2 separate regions of the Homo sapiens genome follow, and region 1 is linked to region 2. Evidence: fine-mapped expression QTL. A gene starts in region 2. The other region holds a variant in brackets. All regions are shown on one strand. Distances are between the middles of the regions.

Region 1 (8,382 bases), 23 kb before region 2:
ACCTGGAACGGACATAAGATCCTAAAAATGCCCACGATTTAAGAAAAATTAGAGTGGCTTAATAAACTGAGAATTTCAGAGTGACTTCTTCATTGGTCCTGACTAGCAAGCCCACACCATCCCATTTTGGTCAAATAAGAGTAGTTACACAGGGTCCAAGAGGAAGATGGTTCCAGGTGGCCAGGATTTTGAGAGTCCTAAAGTGCATTCTGGCTATCTGTCCCATGCTTTTAACCTAAAAATGTTCTTTGTATGTATGGATTTTAGCAACTTTAGCTCAGCCTACACAGCATTCGCTTCAGCTGCCCTCAGCTTTCTCTGTAAGTTAATTTTAATAACCACAACCATCACCACCAACATCTTTACCAGGAAAACAACCAAATGCTTTTAAAATCCATATTGCTCATTACAGTTGAGTATCTATAAATGCAATGCCCACAACTGCTTCAAAGAGTTAATAATAGCTAACATTTATTGAGTATTTAATATGTGCCAGGCACTGTGGGAGTGTTACATGCATTAACTCACGTAAACTTGACTGTTAACTATATGAGACAGGTGTAATTATTATTCTCATTTTACAAATGAGAAAACTGAGGCTTGGTGAGTTAAGTAATTTCCCATGAACACTTAGGTAGCAAGTTATATAGCTCCTAGATTTAAATGTAGGTAACCTGACTTCAGAATTCATGCTCTGGAACCAATAAGTAACCTTGCCTCTCACATGTCATGTTTCTTTCTCCAGCCAGTCTGAATCCTAAGTAAGAGTACTATGTTGTAAATTAACCACACCTGTGAATCCATGTTTCTGGACTCTTTGGAAACTTGGTTAAGGCGAGTTTTCCCAGATGTAAATCCTTAATTGGATTTAAAGTGCCAGAGAGGATCAGCTCTTTCCTGTAAAAAAAAAAAAAAAAAAAAAAAAAAATTAAACATTACTTTATCCTTATATCCAAAGGTTCTACATGGCTTTTAATATAATCTCATTGTGAAGCGAATGTCTAAGAATTTTAAAACAAAAAAAGAAAGAAAAAAAGCCCAAGCCACTCTGGGATATAAAACACTCATAAATGTGACATGCAGTAATCAAGAATGTATTCTCATAATCCCAATATAACAAACTAATAAGCAGAAAGAGAAGCTCTTAAATCAACAGATTTTAACGATTTTTAAATCTTAACTATTTGCGTGAGGGTAAATGGGGTTTTCTGGCCTATCTCATTTCCAAAAGTTGTGAGACCTGATATCGTACCTATAGGGCCAATCCAATACCAGCCAAAATTGGTCTAGTTTCCTAAATAGGACTTGACATGGTCTATTTCATTACAAAACCACACATACAACAAACACAATATGGTTGAGATGTAAGGGAAAAAAAAATCATTCATGGAATCACTATTCTAACCAAATTACTATTTTTTATTTTTGAATTTTCCCTTCTACTTTTCCCTATCACACATACATTTTAACATATAATTTTACATCCTGCTCTCATTATATCTTAAGAATTTCCCCATGATTCTATATAATCTTTGTAATGAACATTTTAAATGATCAAATTAGTTTTCATTTAGAAGCTATGCTTTTCCCTTCTTGTTAGACATTTAGGTTGCGTCAAACTTTTTGTTATTTTAAAACAAATCTGGGCAGGGGAAGCTTTGTGCTTATAACTTCTTTCTTTTGTATTCTTACTTTGGATAAGTTTCCAAAAGAGCTATTAACAAGGTAAAATACTTACATGACCCTTGATATACGAGGCCATTCCTTTTTAAAATATTAATATAAGCAGCAGAAGTAATAGCAATGTAATGTTTTGGTTGTTTTTAAAACTGTTCAAGCCCAACCAAAGCTTCAATGCAATCAGTTGTCCCTTGGTATCTTGTGGGGGCTTGGTTCAGGACCTCCCAAGGATACCAAAATCTGCGAATGCTCAAGTCCTTGATATAAAATGTGTTGCCATATAACCTACACACATCCTCCCATATACTTCATATCATCTCTAGATTACTTATAATACCTAATACAATGTAAATGCTATATAAATAGTTGTTACATTATTCAGGGACTAATGATAGGAAAACAAAGTCTGAACATGTTCGCTACAGAAAGCAATTTTTTCCCCAAATATTTTCTATCTGCGGTTGGTTGAATCCATGGATGCAGAACCTACAGATACAGAGGGCCAACTATATAAAGAATGTCATGCAAGAGCTTTCTATACCTGTTTCTCAGGTAAATACAATTTACATTTAATTTCTCAGGTAAGTTTTTGATAAGTGCTGATATTACACTCTCACTGAATTCTCAATGTATCTATAATTTTATAATAAAATCAGATCATTTGTTATTATTTATCTTAAAATGTCCTTCCTGTGTAGGGCTGATTATTCATTTATTTTAGAGAAGTTTAAGCCAGAGAAAACCAGAATCCAGCTCTTATACCATATCTACTTAGACGGACTTAATTCCTAAATACCACAATACATTTTCTTTCCAACAGTGACATACTATTTATAAAGTTTTATTTGATAAAGAAAACAACTATTTTCCTTTCAATGTTCAGGAAACCAATTTGTCATTATATATATATAATATATATATAAAATATATATTTTTTTCTTGCAACAGCCAATTGCTTTTGCAGTCTTGGATTATTTTTCTTCTGAAATCAGTAACATTTTGTTCATACAGTAAGTCAGGATACCTATAAAGTAAAAGGAGGAAAATATTGCTCTATGTAATTTTAACCACGTTTGAAAGCAATGTTTCTCAAAGTGAACCCTGACTGCAACATCAGCATCATCTGGAACTTATGCGAAATGCAGATCCTCAGGCCTCAGCCCAGAACCAACTGAGTCAGAAACTCAGGTGGGCACAGCAATATGTGTTTTAAAACAAGCTCTTCAGATGATGCCCATTGGCTGGGCACGGTAGCTCACGCCTGTAATCCCAGCACTTTGGGAGGCCGAGGCAGGTGGATCACGAGGTCAAGAGATTGAGACCATCCTGGCCAACATGGTGAAACTTTGTTTCTATTAAAAGTAAAAAAATTAGCTGGGCATGGTGGCACGCACCTGTAGTCCCAGCTACTTGGGAGGCTGAGGCAGGAGAATCGCTTGAACCCAGGAGGCAGAGGTTGCAGTGAGCCAAGATCGCGCCACTGCACTCCAGCCTGGCAATAATGATGCCCATTAAAGTTTAAAAAACAACTACTATAATGAATTTATTGTATTATGCTTAATTTCCATTTCATAAATTTAAGACCTCTTATTATTTATAACTGTCTACCTTTATTCCCATATATATCCATATATAAGGGGAGATAATCAAAATTTTCTTCAAAAAAGAGGCAGTTACCCTACAACTGAGTTTTGACAAAGTTTCTTAAATTATGGGCACTCTCTTTTGCAACCACTGCGGTACAGAATTTTAAAAAAAGAAAAAGAAAAAAATGGGGACTCCGTTAATATCTTTATTTTGAATTAAGCAGCATTTTTGGGAAGACATCTTAGCTTGAAACAACCTCAATCAATGTTAATATATGGACACTGAAAAAGATCACCTGATGGAATCAAGCAAAATTTTAATATCAATGTAATAAACATTGCTAGGGGTAGTACTGAACATTTGTAGGTGTTGGATATTGCTGAAACAAGTTTTTCAAAAATCACTTTAAGAGGAAATATGATATGTGGTAACATTAACAGCAATCACATAATCTAGTGCTATATATTTTTTTTTAGATGGGGTCTCACTGTCTTGCCCAGGCTGGAGTACAGTGGCACAATCTTGGCTCACTGAAATCTCTGCCTCCTGGGCTCAAGTGATCCTCCTGCCTCAGCCTCCCAAGCAGCTGGGACCACAGGCACACACAACCACGTCTAGCTAATTTTTTGTATTTTTGGTGGAGACAGGGTCTCACCATGTTGCCCAGGCTGGTCTCAAACTTCTGAGCTCAAGCAATCCACCCATCTCGGCCTCCCAAAGTGCTGGGATTACAGGTGTGAGCCACCATACCTGGCCTTAGAGCTACATTTTAAAAAAATCAACTGCTCTAATGTATTCAAATAAGAATCTGACTGGAGATACAATTTCCACTCACAAACAGATTCAAAAAGTGCTGTAGCTCAAACAACTTAGATATACTATGATGGGCTCTGGAAAA[A/C]TGTGCTACAGAACTAAAAACAACTAGGTCTTGTGATGACAAAGTCACTGATGTCAATGAGGCATGTAAGGTGTTTGAATAAAACTGACTACTCTTTTTCTTTTCTCAATCTTTACTCTGTCTGAAATGACAATAATAATGGCCATCCTCATTAAAAACTACCATGTATTGAACACTTCCTCTGAGTCAAGAACCGTGTAAAGTGATTTACATATGTTACATAATTTCTCACAACAATCCTGTAAGGTAAATATCATCATTGAGCCATATGAAATTGCTGATACTCAATCTTTTTTTAAAAATAAACTTTTTATTTTACAATAGTTTCAGGTTCGTAAACAAGTTGTAAGGATAATACAAAGAATTCCCATATGCCCTGTACCTAGTTTCTCTGCTATTAACATCTTATATTACCATGGTACCTTTGTCAAAATTTATGCAACAGTATTGATATTGATATATTTTTATTAAAAGTCCATACTTTATTTAGAATTCCTTAGTTTCTACCAAATGTCCTTTTCCTCTTCTAAAGTTCCCTCCAGGATCCCTTATATTTGGTAGTTATGTCTCCTTATGCTCCTCTTGGCTACTCAAATTTACCTTGCTTTTGATGACTTTGACAGTTTTGAGAATATGGGTCAGGTATTTTGTATAATGTTTTTCTCATCATTAAACTGGAGTTACAGATTCTGGAGAGGAAGACCAAAGAGGTAAAGTGACATTTTCACTGCATCATATCAGAGGCATGTGCTATCAACATGACTTAGCATTGTTGATATCAATCTGGATTACCTGGCTGAGTTCAGGTTTCTTCACTACTTTTTGCAAGAAAGTCACTGATTTTTTTATTTGGTGCACAGCTCAACCTTAAGAAATACAGAGTTATGCTCTACCTTGTAGAGGGGGATTATCTAGATAAATTAACAGAACATTTGTCTATTGTCTCTTACTTATATATTCATTCATTCATTTCAGTGGGCTGATGGATAGGGGTATAATCCAATACTATGTTATTTATTTTGTTGCTCAAATCATTCCAGCTATGGCCACTGGAAGCTCTTTCAGTTGCTCCCCATGTCCCTTTTTCATATCCCACCATATATTTTTGAATACTTCCTTACTTTCTGGCTCTATAAGATGCTCCAAGCTCATCTTGTATACTTCCTGCTCTGGTCCTAGAATCAGCCATTTCTAACATCATTAAAGAATGGTATTAGAAACCACAATGTGGGTGCTAGAATTAAATTGTTTTTTATCTATATAAAAAAAATTTCCCTAACACCTCAATTTTTTTTTTTTTTTTTGAGACGGAGTCTTGCTCTGTCACCAGGCTGGAGTGCAGTGGCACGCTCTTGGCTCACTGCAACCTCCGCCTCCCAGGTTCAAGCGATTCCCCTTCCTCAGCCTCCAGAGTGGCTGGGACTACACATGTGCACTGACACGCACGGCTAATTTTTTGTATTTTAGTAGAGATGGGGTTTCACCATATTGGCCAGGATGGTCTTGATCTCCTGACCTCGTGATCCACCCACCTTGGCCTCCCAAAGTGCTGGGATTACAGGCGTGAGCCACCATGCCCGGCCAAATACCTCAATTTTACAGATGAAGAAATTGAATCCTGGAGAAGTTCAGTAACTTGCTCAGGTTTCTTAGCTCAAAATGTCAGAACCAAACATCAAATCTGCACAAAATAAAGTTACCAATTTAAATCAATAGGCTATGAGTTCAGAACATGAATCACTGGAGTTTGGCATCAACTATTCTAGTTGCTCAAAGGTGTTTTGCTTACTCTAAGTACATAGACTGATGAAGAAAATAGGACATTATTACTAAGTCAACCTCTTTCATCAGGTAATTCACAAATTTCCAAAGCAAAAAAAAAAAGCAGTTTTCTTTAAAAAAAAAAAAGACAGCTGAAATTCTAAATTATGTGTATCACTCACTGTAATTACAGGAGATCAGTTCAAAAACTTATTTTTGCCTCTATTTCTTTCCCCTAAGACTGCAATACCCACAAATTGAACTAGACGTCTATTGCATTATTCTTTAGCAGTTTGAAAAATGCATTAAAAAATCACTCAATGCCTTCCAGGGTTAGTACAGAAGAGATCCACTAACAATTAAAAATAAAGTTCTGTGTATTTGATACGCAATAGAGACCTTATAGGGTTAGAATTTACTTTGAAGTTGGTAGTTTGTTGCTCAAAATGTACCTATGATTTGATGTCTTTCTATGTCAATCAATCTTACTGATATGAATTAAAATTTACTAGAACACATATCCACAAAGGATTTTTTAAAAATCAAGATTCCCTTTCTACTCATCTAGCACAAAACCTTACTAATCATCTAACTAGAACAATTTTCAAGATTAACTGTCATAAACATCCCTCAAGTTAGATTTATGGAGCAACTTCCCTTCATAAGACCAACCAGACATATTTTTTTAAAAGTTTAATAGAATCATAAAAAAATTCACCTAATTCAAATCTTTTATTTCATAGATAAAAAAACCAAAACTCTTGATAATTAAAAGTTATACTCAAAGTCAGCCGCTAGTTAACTTATGAAACAGGACTAAGTTCCATGAATCTTAAGGCCAGGATTTTTTCTCCTATGCTCAACTGGTTTATAGGATATACAATGAATAACATGTGTGTATACATATATGTATATAGGTGTGTGTGTGTATGTATGTATGTAGGTATATACACTATGCTAGTGAGATCATTTTTTGTTGAAGCATTTTTGAATTCCTCTCTATTGGTGAGGATGATGAAACAGGACTAAGTTCCATGAATCTTAGGCCTAGGTTTTTTTCTCCTATGCTCAACGGGCTTATAGAATATACAATGAATAACACGTGTGTATACACATATGTATACAGGTGTGTGTGTGTGTGTGTATGTACCTATCTATGCATATATGCTAGGCTAGTGAGAATTTTTTTGTTGAAGGACTTTTGAATTCCTCTCTATAGGTGAGGAATACAAGAACATGAAGAAAAATGGCATTCCTACTTCCCTATTACTCTGATTTCTTTTTCACTGAATTTGATTTCCGTGCCCAATTTGCAAACTGCATGTCTATTATGTACCGGCACTAGAGTTAGATGCTAAGGAAACAAAGGGGAAAAAAAAAAAAAAAAAGACATGGTCCCTGCCCTTAAAAAAGCTCTGAATTTTAAGTTCATGGTACCTTCCTAAAAGTCTCCTTTGCTGATTCTTCCTCATCTTGCAAATGCTAGAACAGTGCTGTCCAATAGAAATATAATGTGAGTCACAAATACGAGTCATATATGATTTAAAATGTTCTAACAGCTATATTAAACACAAGTATAAATATATTTAATTCAATATATCCAAAATATAATAATTTCAGCAAGTAATATAAAAATTATTAATGAGATATTTCCATTTTTTGCTAGGTAGTCTTCAAAATATGATGTGCAGTTTATCACTTCGGACACATCTCAGTTGAGACTAATCACATTTCAAGGGCTCAATAGCCACATGTGGCTAATGGCTACTGTACTGGATTGTGCAACCCTAGAAAATAGAATGTCTCAGGGCTCAGTCTTTGAACTGGTTCTTGTCTCTAGCTATGCCAACACTTTTGGGGATCTTAAAACAGTTTCATGGCTTTAAAACCATCTATATGTTAGTAATTCCCAAGTTTACATCTGGCCCAGACCTTTTTCCTGAACTTTAAATTAATATACAACTACTTGGACACAAATCTAACATGTCCCAATCTGAACTCTTGGCCTATAACAAACACCGCCTACCTAAATCTGTTTCTCTTCCAGACACTGCCATTTCAGTAAATGGCAATTCCATCCTTTCAGTTGCTCAGGGAAAAAGCCAGAGGCAAGCATGACTCCCTCTTTCTCATCCCATACACTTTCCACTACACTGCAGTGCTTCTCAAATACCAATGATATAATGTTATATGCCTTATAAGCCAACCAGTTATGCCCATTGCCCATTAGTCTCCCACCCCAAAAAATGAAGGAAAATAAAAGCATGTATCAAACAGTATACTGTAACTCAACATGACAATTTATATTTCAGGCAAGAAAGTTTATGAAGACACCACACAAAAAGGGGCAAAATGCCTATTTAGAATTGTCACAGGTATAAAGAATAGGGAGAAGAAATAAGTGTAAAATGGTTTATATTTCGTTTTCAAAAGCTAACAACTTATGGGGCTTACAT
Region 2 (8,382 bases):
CCAGAGACCAGCATTGTGCCTGTCAAATGGAGGTACTCTTTTGCAGAATGTATGAATGGAATGAAAGAAATTAAATGAGAGTCAAGGATCTCCATAATCTGGCCCTACTGTACCTTCTCAGCCACACTTTGCTTGTTTAGGTCAATTCACTGCTCCCTGTGGAGGTCTCTGGCTCCCTCTGAGACTACAAATCCTACCCAGACTTTAATACTTGGCTTAAAACCCACCTCCACTAGCACCCCTATCCGAGACATAACCAGCCTCCTCTCCACTTCTATTAGACTCCCATAGCACTTGCTCATCATGCTCCTATCCAACTTTTACTATAAACTACTTTGGAGGGTTAATTTACTGTTCATGCAGTTAGTCTTAGGTCTCATCTACACCTGCACTATGCATCACAGTAGTCACTAGGCACATGGAGCCACTACGTACAAATCCATTTAAATTAAATAAAATTTAAAATGTGGTCCCTGTTCATATTAGGGACACTTCAATTGCTCAATAGCTACTATGGCTAGTGGCTACCATATGGAACAGCACAGACACAGAAAATTTCCACCATTACAGAAATTTCTGTTAGTGCCTTGGGTTCAAGAACTGTATTTTAAACTTCTATTTCACACAGTAAAGATGGTACCCACAACACTTCATAAACAGTGAGTTCAATATTTAATAGAAAAAACAATAACTTGCTGGATAAGATTAATTTTAACGTGACTGTTTACATTATAAACTGTTGTCTTCTACATTAGCACAGGGTCCATACACTAAGTTAAAGACTATCCCTAGGTCAAGTTTTCAGTTTTAGAGAATCCAATATGATTATCTAATACTCAACCATACAAACAGCATTTATATAGTATTATCCAGGTTTATAAAGTGCTTCATATTCACCAATCATTTGTCCAATATATTTTTGGTGAGGAACACAGAGATTCAGGGAAGGTCTAATATTTATTGAGTGGCAACTAAGTACCACTGTGTGAGGTGATTTTCCTGTTTTCATCAGCCTCACAAGATCAAGAGGAAACTGAGGCTGAGAGAAGGTACCTATTCACATCATACAGTAACAAAATCCACATCTCACCACTGCATCCTCAACTCCTTCTGGCTAAATATTTCTACATAAACAAAGTCAATGTATTTAATGAAGTAGATGTTGGCCAATAAAATTACAACCGATCTTAAGTTTGGACAAGAAAAACAAAAAAATTTTTGTATAATACTGAAAGTGTAATTAGATACAGTAAAGTTAGATACAAACGTTACAGATAAACAATGCCTTAAAAAAAAAAAAAGAAACACAGCCTCTTTATTTTGGGAGTAAATGGGCTAAATTAAGGGAAGAAAGCGCAGGCAATTTTTAAAAGCCCAAATTATAAGGCACTTACAAAGATGCATAGTAATATTATTGAAAATAGTTTTACTGTGGGGAATATGTATTCAAATATAGCTGATGACTAGTCTTAAACAATGAGTTAAGCTATTTAAATGTTTAAGACCTATATTACAAATCATTACATTATTCCGAATATCCAACTTATCTCAAAGTTTTAAATCTCGAATGACCCAAATCCTTATTACTAATAAATTATACATTGAGGATATATTAATGAGGTTTTACAGTAGAAAAAGGATTAGGGAGGGGCATTAAAGTCCTTTAAGAGTTTCCATAAATGTGATCCACAAGAACTGGGACATGTTCCAAACTGCACTGTGTTAAAAACTGCCAAGCCAATGAACATTCAATCTTGGTTTCTTCAAATATAATGATGCTCTTTTAGTCTACCTCAAAGAAGAGAACATAAGATGATTACGACATTTTGTATTAGATTTCTAATCTCTGCTGTAATTTCTTCTAGAAAAATACCAGTGATGAGAAAATACACTCTTCATTTGTCCAACTTTTTTTTTTTTTGAGGTCGTCTCTTACTTGCACTAAGGCTCCCATTCTCAAAAAGAAATCGAAAGACTGATATACAGCAAGGCATCAAAGCATTCTTTAGAAGGCTCAGCAACCACTATGGATACTGCCAGGAAATCATTCCAAACACTCTCATTTTGAAAAAGGCAGCAGTCATAAGGGGGAGGGAAGTGGATGCTGTCAGAGGTGGCAGGTGTGTTTTGAGGCCAGCAGTGTTTTGTTTTTAATGTGGCACAGTTGCACGTCTCCAATTGTGTGCCACAAGGGAGCAAAACATCCAACGGCTTCTTAACTGTTTTACAATCATCACCTTGGAGGAAAAGAACACTTTGGTAAGATACACGTTTGGCAACTTTTTTAGGCAGAAAAGCTGAACCGGTTAGAATACTTAAAAAAAAAAATCATGAGCTCCAGTCTAAAGAATAAAATAAAAATAAATTAAATAATAATAAAAAATAATAAACTAAAAAAAAAAAAAATAAACTCCAAAAACAACTAGCTAAAATGAAAGTAATGCAGAACTGGATGCCATGTTTCTTTTCTTTGAGGAGGAAGAGGTATGGGAAAGGAGGTACATTGTTGCTTCTTCCCTACACCTTTGTATAATGTAGATCTCTCTCTCTCTCTCAATAGCTTTCTTTTCACTTGTTACATAAAAGCAAAGTGTTACAAAAAGTAGACTCTTGCGGTATCTTCCCACAGTACTTCAAGTAAAATGGAAGAGATACATATGTCAGTTCTGCAGTGTCCCGTTAAAGAGGGCAGCAGTGTTGGGATAAAAATGAGTTAACATGCTCCTTGTAACTATGAATCCGCTTATGCTAAAAAGTATCAAGGTTTCATTTGCTTTATCCCAGACTCCACACTGCGCCCACAGAAGCTTCTCTTGAGAATGTTCTGTTCACCTTTCAAAACACAATGTATTATCGGAGTCACTTTACAATTTTGTGGCAAGTAAGGCTAAAGTCAAAAGCAGCCTCAAACCACCTTTAGTTAGTAAACTGAGGGGTTTGAGGCTCATTAAAAGTAAGAGGATCGGTTACCCCCTCTTGCCAACGTCCGGGATGAATCTCAAGAGTTGTGTTTACAAGGCATACACGGACCCACATCGTTGTGTGCGCCCGAGTACCTTAAACACAGGAAGGATGTCGACCTACGGGGGACGTCTCTGGAGTTTCGTGAACTCCTATGAAAAGGTGGGGAGGGACAGAGAAAGTAGTTCCGTTTTGATTTTTTGAGGTCACTTCTAGGGACTCGACCGCGAGCGCGTCCCGGTAGCGGAAAGCCGGGCCAGCGGCGGCCGACAACGGTCCCGCCCGACACGGCTCTGCCTCCTCCCTAGAAGGGCTCGTGGGCCAGGACCCGCTGTCCGCCCGCCGCCCGAGGTCGGGTGGACGCTTGGCCCCGCCCCCGCCCGCTCCCGACGACCCTCGGAGGCGGCGGAGGCGCGCGACTCACATGTGTGGGTTCCTCCTGAAGGCGTTAGTGATGTCCTTCACAACCCGCTGCACCAGCACCGCCACCTCCTCGCTGGTCTCGGCCATGTTGGCGGCGGCCGCGACAGTTCGGGCGCGCCTCCGCGTGAGCCGGGCCGCCGGCGGGAGTTCCGCGGAGAACGAGCGCGCGCGCGCGCGCGCGGGTGCTTCGGCTAGGCCGCGTCCCCGCCGCCGCGGCCGCCGCCGAGCACTTCCGGGTCAGCCAGTTGGCGGCCTGGGCGTGGCGTTAGCTAGGGTTGGTGGCCTTCCAGTGAGTGGAGAAGTTCGCCTCCGCGCGGGTAACGGACTTTCTAAGCGTCAGAGAAGATGCTGGACATTTGTTTGCAAAGTTCTCTCAGGCCTCCGATTTTCTTATTTTAAGTTTTAGGCGAAACCTCAAGACACACTCCCAGAGAGTCAGACACCTTCCTGAACCCCCCCAGCAAGGTCCCCGGGCATTCCTGAAGGAATGTTCAACTGAGGATGCAGGGCCTCTTAACAGTTAGTCCCGGGCGTTTTTCAGAGCTTGTCTGCTTTATTTTCCCAGCCTGAGAGATGAAGAGGTCCAGAGGCATTGCGGCGGAGCGAGTCCCTATTTGACCGTGTTGGTGACCTCCTTTCTAACTGTGCCAATTTTTGTCTCTGAACTTGAAAGCAGCCTTTTTAAAAAACATTAATTAAAATTCTTAAATTTATTAAAGGAAGAGAAAGGAAAGTGAAGGAAAAGTTATTTGCCATCTGTATGTAGGAAGTAGAAGTGAAATCGTTTTTAGATTTTTCGACTTCATTTTGTACTGCATTTGGTAGCCTTTGCGTCAATTTTGGAATTTAAAAAAAAGGATCAAGGCTCTGACAGGGTTTGTTCATAATAGCAAAAATAAATTTTTGTAGGAAAAACGAGCTTTCTAGTTTATTTAGGATTTTGAAATGCCATAACTAAAATTTTTGTGTATCAGGTTTTCTTTTGCACCTCTGGTAGAAAAATCTGGCTGCCCTTGGTTCAGTTTTATTCTTCCACCCTTGAAATCTGGCCAGGTGCGGTGGCTCACGCCTGTAATCCCAGCACTTTGGGGGGCCAAGGCGGGCGGATCACAAGGTCAGGAGATCGAGACCATCCTGGCTAACACGGTGAAACCCCGTCTCTACTAAAAATACAAAAAAAAAAAAAAAAAAAAAAAAGCCGGGCGTGGTGGCGGGCGCCTGTAATCCCAGCTACTCCCCACTGCACTCCAGCCTGGGCGACAGAGCGAGACTCCGTCTTTAAAAAAAGGCCGGGCGCGGTGGCTCACGCCTGTAATCCCAGCACCTTGGGAGGCCGAGGCGGGTGGATCATGAGGTCAGGAGATCGAGACCATCCTGGCTAACAAGGTGAAACCCCGTCTCTACTAAAAATACAAAAAATTAGCTGGGCGCGGTGGCGGGCGCCTGTAGTCCCAGCTACTCGGGAGGCTGAGGCAGGAGAATGGCGTGAACCCGGGAAGCGGAGCTTGCAGTGAGCCGAGATTGCGCCACTGCAGTCCGCAGTCCGGCCTGGGCGACAGAGCGAGACTCTGTCTCAAAAAAAAAAAAAAAGAAATCTGTATCTTTAAAAAGCTATTAAAAAAATAAACTCATGGTGTGTTTAATGTGAACATATGCGGAGCGTTTGAAGTAGTTTTTATGATTGTAAAAGTAAAAGCTATCTATTGCATGTAAAGTGAATGAGAAATATAAACGAAAAATATAAATTTACTATACTCAGTGGCCAGTATTTCCTGTGGGTATGTTTATAAAGGCTGGAGTTAGCCTTCTGGTTGTAAAAGAAGTGAGATAGGACCGGGCACGGTGGCTTACACCTGTAATCCCAGCACTTTGGGAGGCAGAGGCGGAAGGATCACGAGGTCAGGAGTTCGAGACCATCGTGGCCAAGACAGTGAAACGCCGTCTCTACTAAAAATATAAAATTAGCTGGGCGTGGTGGCACGTGCTTGTAATCCCAGCTACTTGGGAGGCTGAGGCAGGAGAAGCGCTTGAACGCGGAAGTAGGAGGTTGCAGTGAGTGGAGATCGCGCCACTGCCCTCCAGCCTGGCGACAGAGCAAGACTCCATCTAAAAAAAAAAAAAAAGAAGTGAGATAGAAGTTTCACAAAATTGTAGCCAGCAAGGTGGGACAGGATTAAGAATTAGTAAAGTCGGCCGGGCACGGTGTCTCACGCCTGTAATCCCAGCACTTTGGGAGGCCGAGGCGGGTGGATACCTGAGATCAGGAGTTTGAGACCAGCCTGGCCAACAGGGTGAAACCCCGTCTCTACTTAAAATACAAAATTAGCTGGGCGTCGTGGTGCATGCCTGTAGCTCCAGCTACTTGGGAGGCTGAGGCAGGAGAATCGCTTGAACCCGGGAGACGCACGTTGCAGTAAGCCAAGACTGTGCCCTGCACTCCAGCCTGGGCAACAAAAGCGAAATGCCATCTCAAAAAAAAAAAAAAAAAAAAAAGAAAGAAAAAAAAAGAGTTAGTAAAATCAATCAAAATTTAACCGATAACAAGTTCTGGAGTGAAGCAGTGAAAAGAGTGGAATGTGTGTTTAGATTTCAAGGCAAAAGACAACTTTAAATATCCTGATTAAGAATGTAAGACCAGTTCTTAAATTAAAATTCTTAAACTTAGTAAGTTTTCTTAATCAGGACCTTGCATCCTAATGGCAGTGGGAAATAAATCCCAATTTCTGGAGGCAGAGATCAAAGCAGCACACTCAGAAATAATGATTTTCCCCGAAAGGCTTTATTTAACAGGGAAAAAAGAAAACTTTGTCCCCAAATTTTGATGTAAAACAGCTATTTCAGAAACAGAATTCCTCTGTATGATTCTGTGTATGCCCTCTCCACATGCAACCTCTTTATAGTCATTTGAAAGGCATGCATTGTATCTTGTTTCCTCTAAGAATTCACAAATTGTTTTACCCCAATTATTAAGAATCTACTATGTTTAGAACTTGTTTTTTTTTTTAGAATTGGAGCATAATTAGAACTCTGAGCCAACTCTCTAATTTTACAGATAAGAAAACAGAAGTCCAAAGGATTTAAGATTTGAAATTCATAAATCCTCAATAATGATATATATGTATACAAGAATAGGGCATAATAAATTCAGCGTGATTTTGTCGAAGGACTACAAGATTTATGTTCATTTATTGATAATAAAATACAGTAAATAACTTAAATGCCCAATGAGAGGGGATTGATTAAATTATAAATTTATATGGTAAGATGCTATTTAGTATTTGAAAATGTAGGGGTGGGTTGCCCCTACACACTTGTGGGTGTTTCTCGTAAGGTGGGACGAGAGATTTGGAAAAGAAAAAGACACAGAGACAAAGTATAGAGAAAGAAATAAGGGGACCCGGGGAACCAGCGTTCAGCATATGGAGGATCCCGCCAGCCTCTGAGTTCCCTTAGTATTTATTGATCATCTGTGGGTGTTTCTCAAAGAGGGGGATGTGTCAGGGTCACAAGACAATTGTGGGGAGAGGGTCAGCAGACAAACACGTGAACAAAGGTCTTTGCATCATAGACAATGTAAAGGATTAAGTGCTGTGCTTTTAGATATGCATACACATAAACATCTCAATGCTTTACAAAGCAGTATTGCTGCCCGCAGGTCCCACCTCCAGCCCTAAGGCAGTTTTTCCCTATCTCAGTAGATGCAGCATACAATCGGGTTTTATACCGAGACATTCCATTGCCCAGGGACAGGCAGGAGACAGATGCCTTCCTCTTGTCTCAACTGCAAGAGGCATTCCTTCCTCTTTTACTAATCCTCCTCAGCACAGACCCTTTACGGGTGTCGGGCTGGGGGACGGTCAGGTCTTTCCCTTCCCACGAGGCCATATTTCAGACTATCACATGGGGAGAAACCTTGGACAATACCTGGCTTTCCTAGGCAGAGGTCCCTGCGGACTTCCGCAGTTTTTGTGTCCCTGGGTACTTGAGATTAGGGAGTGGTGATGACTCTTAACGAGCATGCTGCCTTCAAGCATCTGTTTAACAAAGCACATCTTGCACCGCCCTTAATCCATTCAACTCTGAGTTGACACAGCACATGTTTCAGAGAGCACGGGGTTGGGGGTAAGGTTATAGATTAACAGGATCTCAAGGCAGAAGAATTTCTCCTAGTACATAACAAAATGGAGTCTCCTATGTCTACTTCTTTCTACACAGACACAGTAACAATCTGATCTCTCTTGCTTTTCCCCACATGAAAATCACATTATAACTAGAGGAATATATACCAAAGTGTTAGAGGTATTTTCATAGGACAATTTGACTATGTAATGTAAAGAGCAAAGTAACATTTGTAATTTAAGAATTTTTTTTTTTTTGAGACGGATTCTCACTCTGTCGTGCAGGCTGCAGTGCAGTGGTACAGGTTCAAGCGATTCTCCTGTGTCAGCCTCCTGAGTAGCTGGTATTACAGACACACGCCACCACACCTGGCTAATTTTTCTATTTTTAGTAGAGACTGGGTTTCACCATGTTGGCCAGGCTGGTCTCGAATTCCTGACCTCAACTCCTGACCACCCACCTCGGCCTCCCAAAGTGCTGGGATTACAGGCTTGAGCCACTGCACCTGGCCTAAGAAAAGTTTTTTAAATTATATATTAATAAGGAGCTGATATATTTGTTTGTTAATTAGCCAAATATATTATGTGCATACTAATTTTCTTACAGATATATTGATTTTTTTAAGTGACCATGTCTATTATTATCATTTACATGGTTGTGAATATATTTTGACAATCTTCCTACCCACTCCCAAAAACCACACGTTTCTTATTTTAGAAGACTAATTGATGATAGAGGAAAATGTGGATATGTAATGACCAAAACAAGTACCAAATACAAATACAATACAATATAATCCTAATTTCATATATACCATACAAATTGTATGTAATATAGATATAATTGTACATATATATAAAATAGATGGGGGGATACAAA

The links. PIP is the estimated chance that this variant, and not a neighbour inherited with it, causes the effect. A credible set is the group of variants that fine-mapping cannot tell apart.
Region 1: its variant is the best candidate, but not a certain one, in a credible set for the expression of PTAR1 in whole blood (INTERVAL, PIP 0.87).

What each region holds. Positions count from the first base shown.
Region 1 is chr9:69,733,358-69,741,739 of GRCh38, forward strand. PTAR1 (protein prenyltransferase alpha subunit repeat containing 1) reads right to left here. Exons shown (of 8, transcript NM_001099666.2): 4 at 793-897. Among named protein-coding and RNA genes, the nearest start is that of PTAR1, 22 kb to the right of the region's middle. The variant A/C (reference allele first, on the strand shown) is at 4,166.
Region 2 is chr9:69,756,468-69,764,849 of GRCh38, forward strand. PTAR1 (protein prenyltransferase alpha subunit repeat containing 1) reads right to left here and starts at 3,544. Exons shown (of 8, transcript NM_001099666.2): 1 at 3,386-3,544. The coding sequence starts at 3,471. It overlaps LOC105376076 (a long non-coding RNA gene), which reads left to right and starts at 3,628. Exons shown (of 4, transcript XR_929910.3): 1 at 3,628-4,006. RefSeq lists enhancers at 3,042-3,091, 4,566-5,421, 6,276-7,131, 7,132-7,986 and silencers at 3,232-3,701, 5,606-5,900.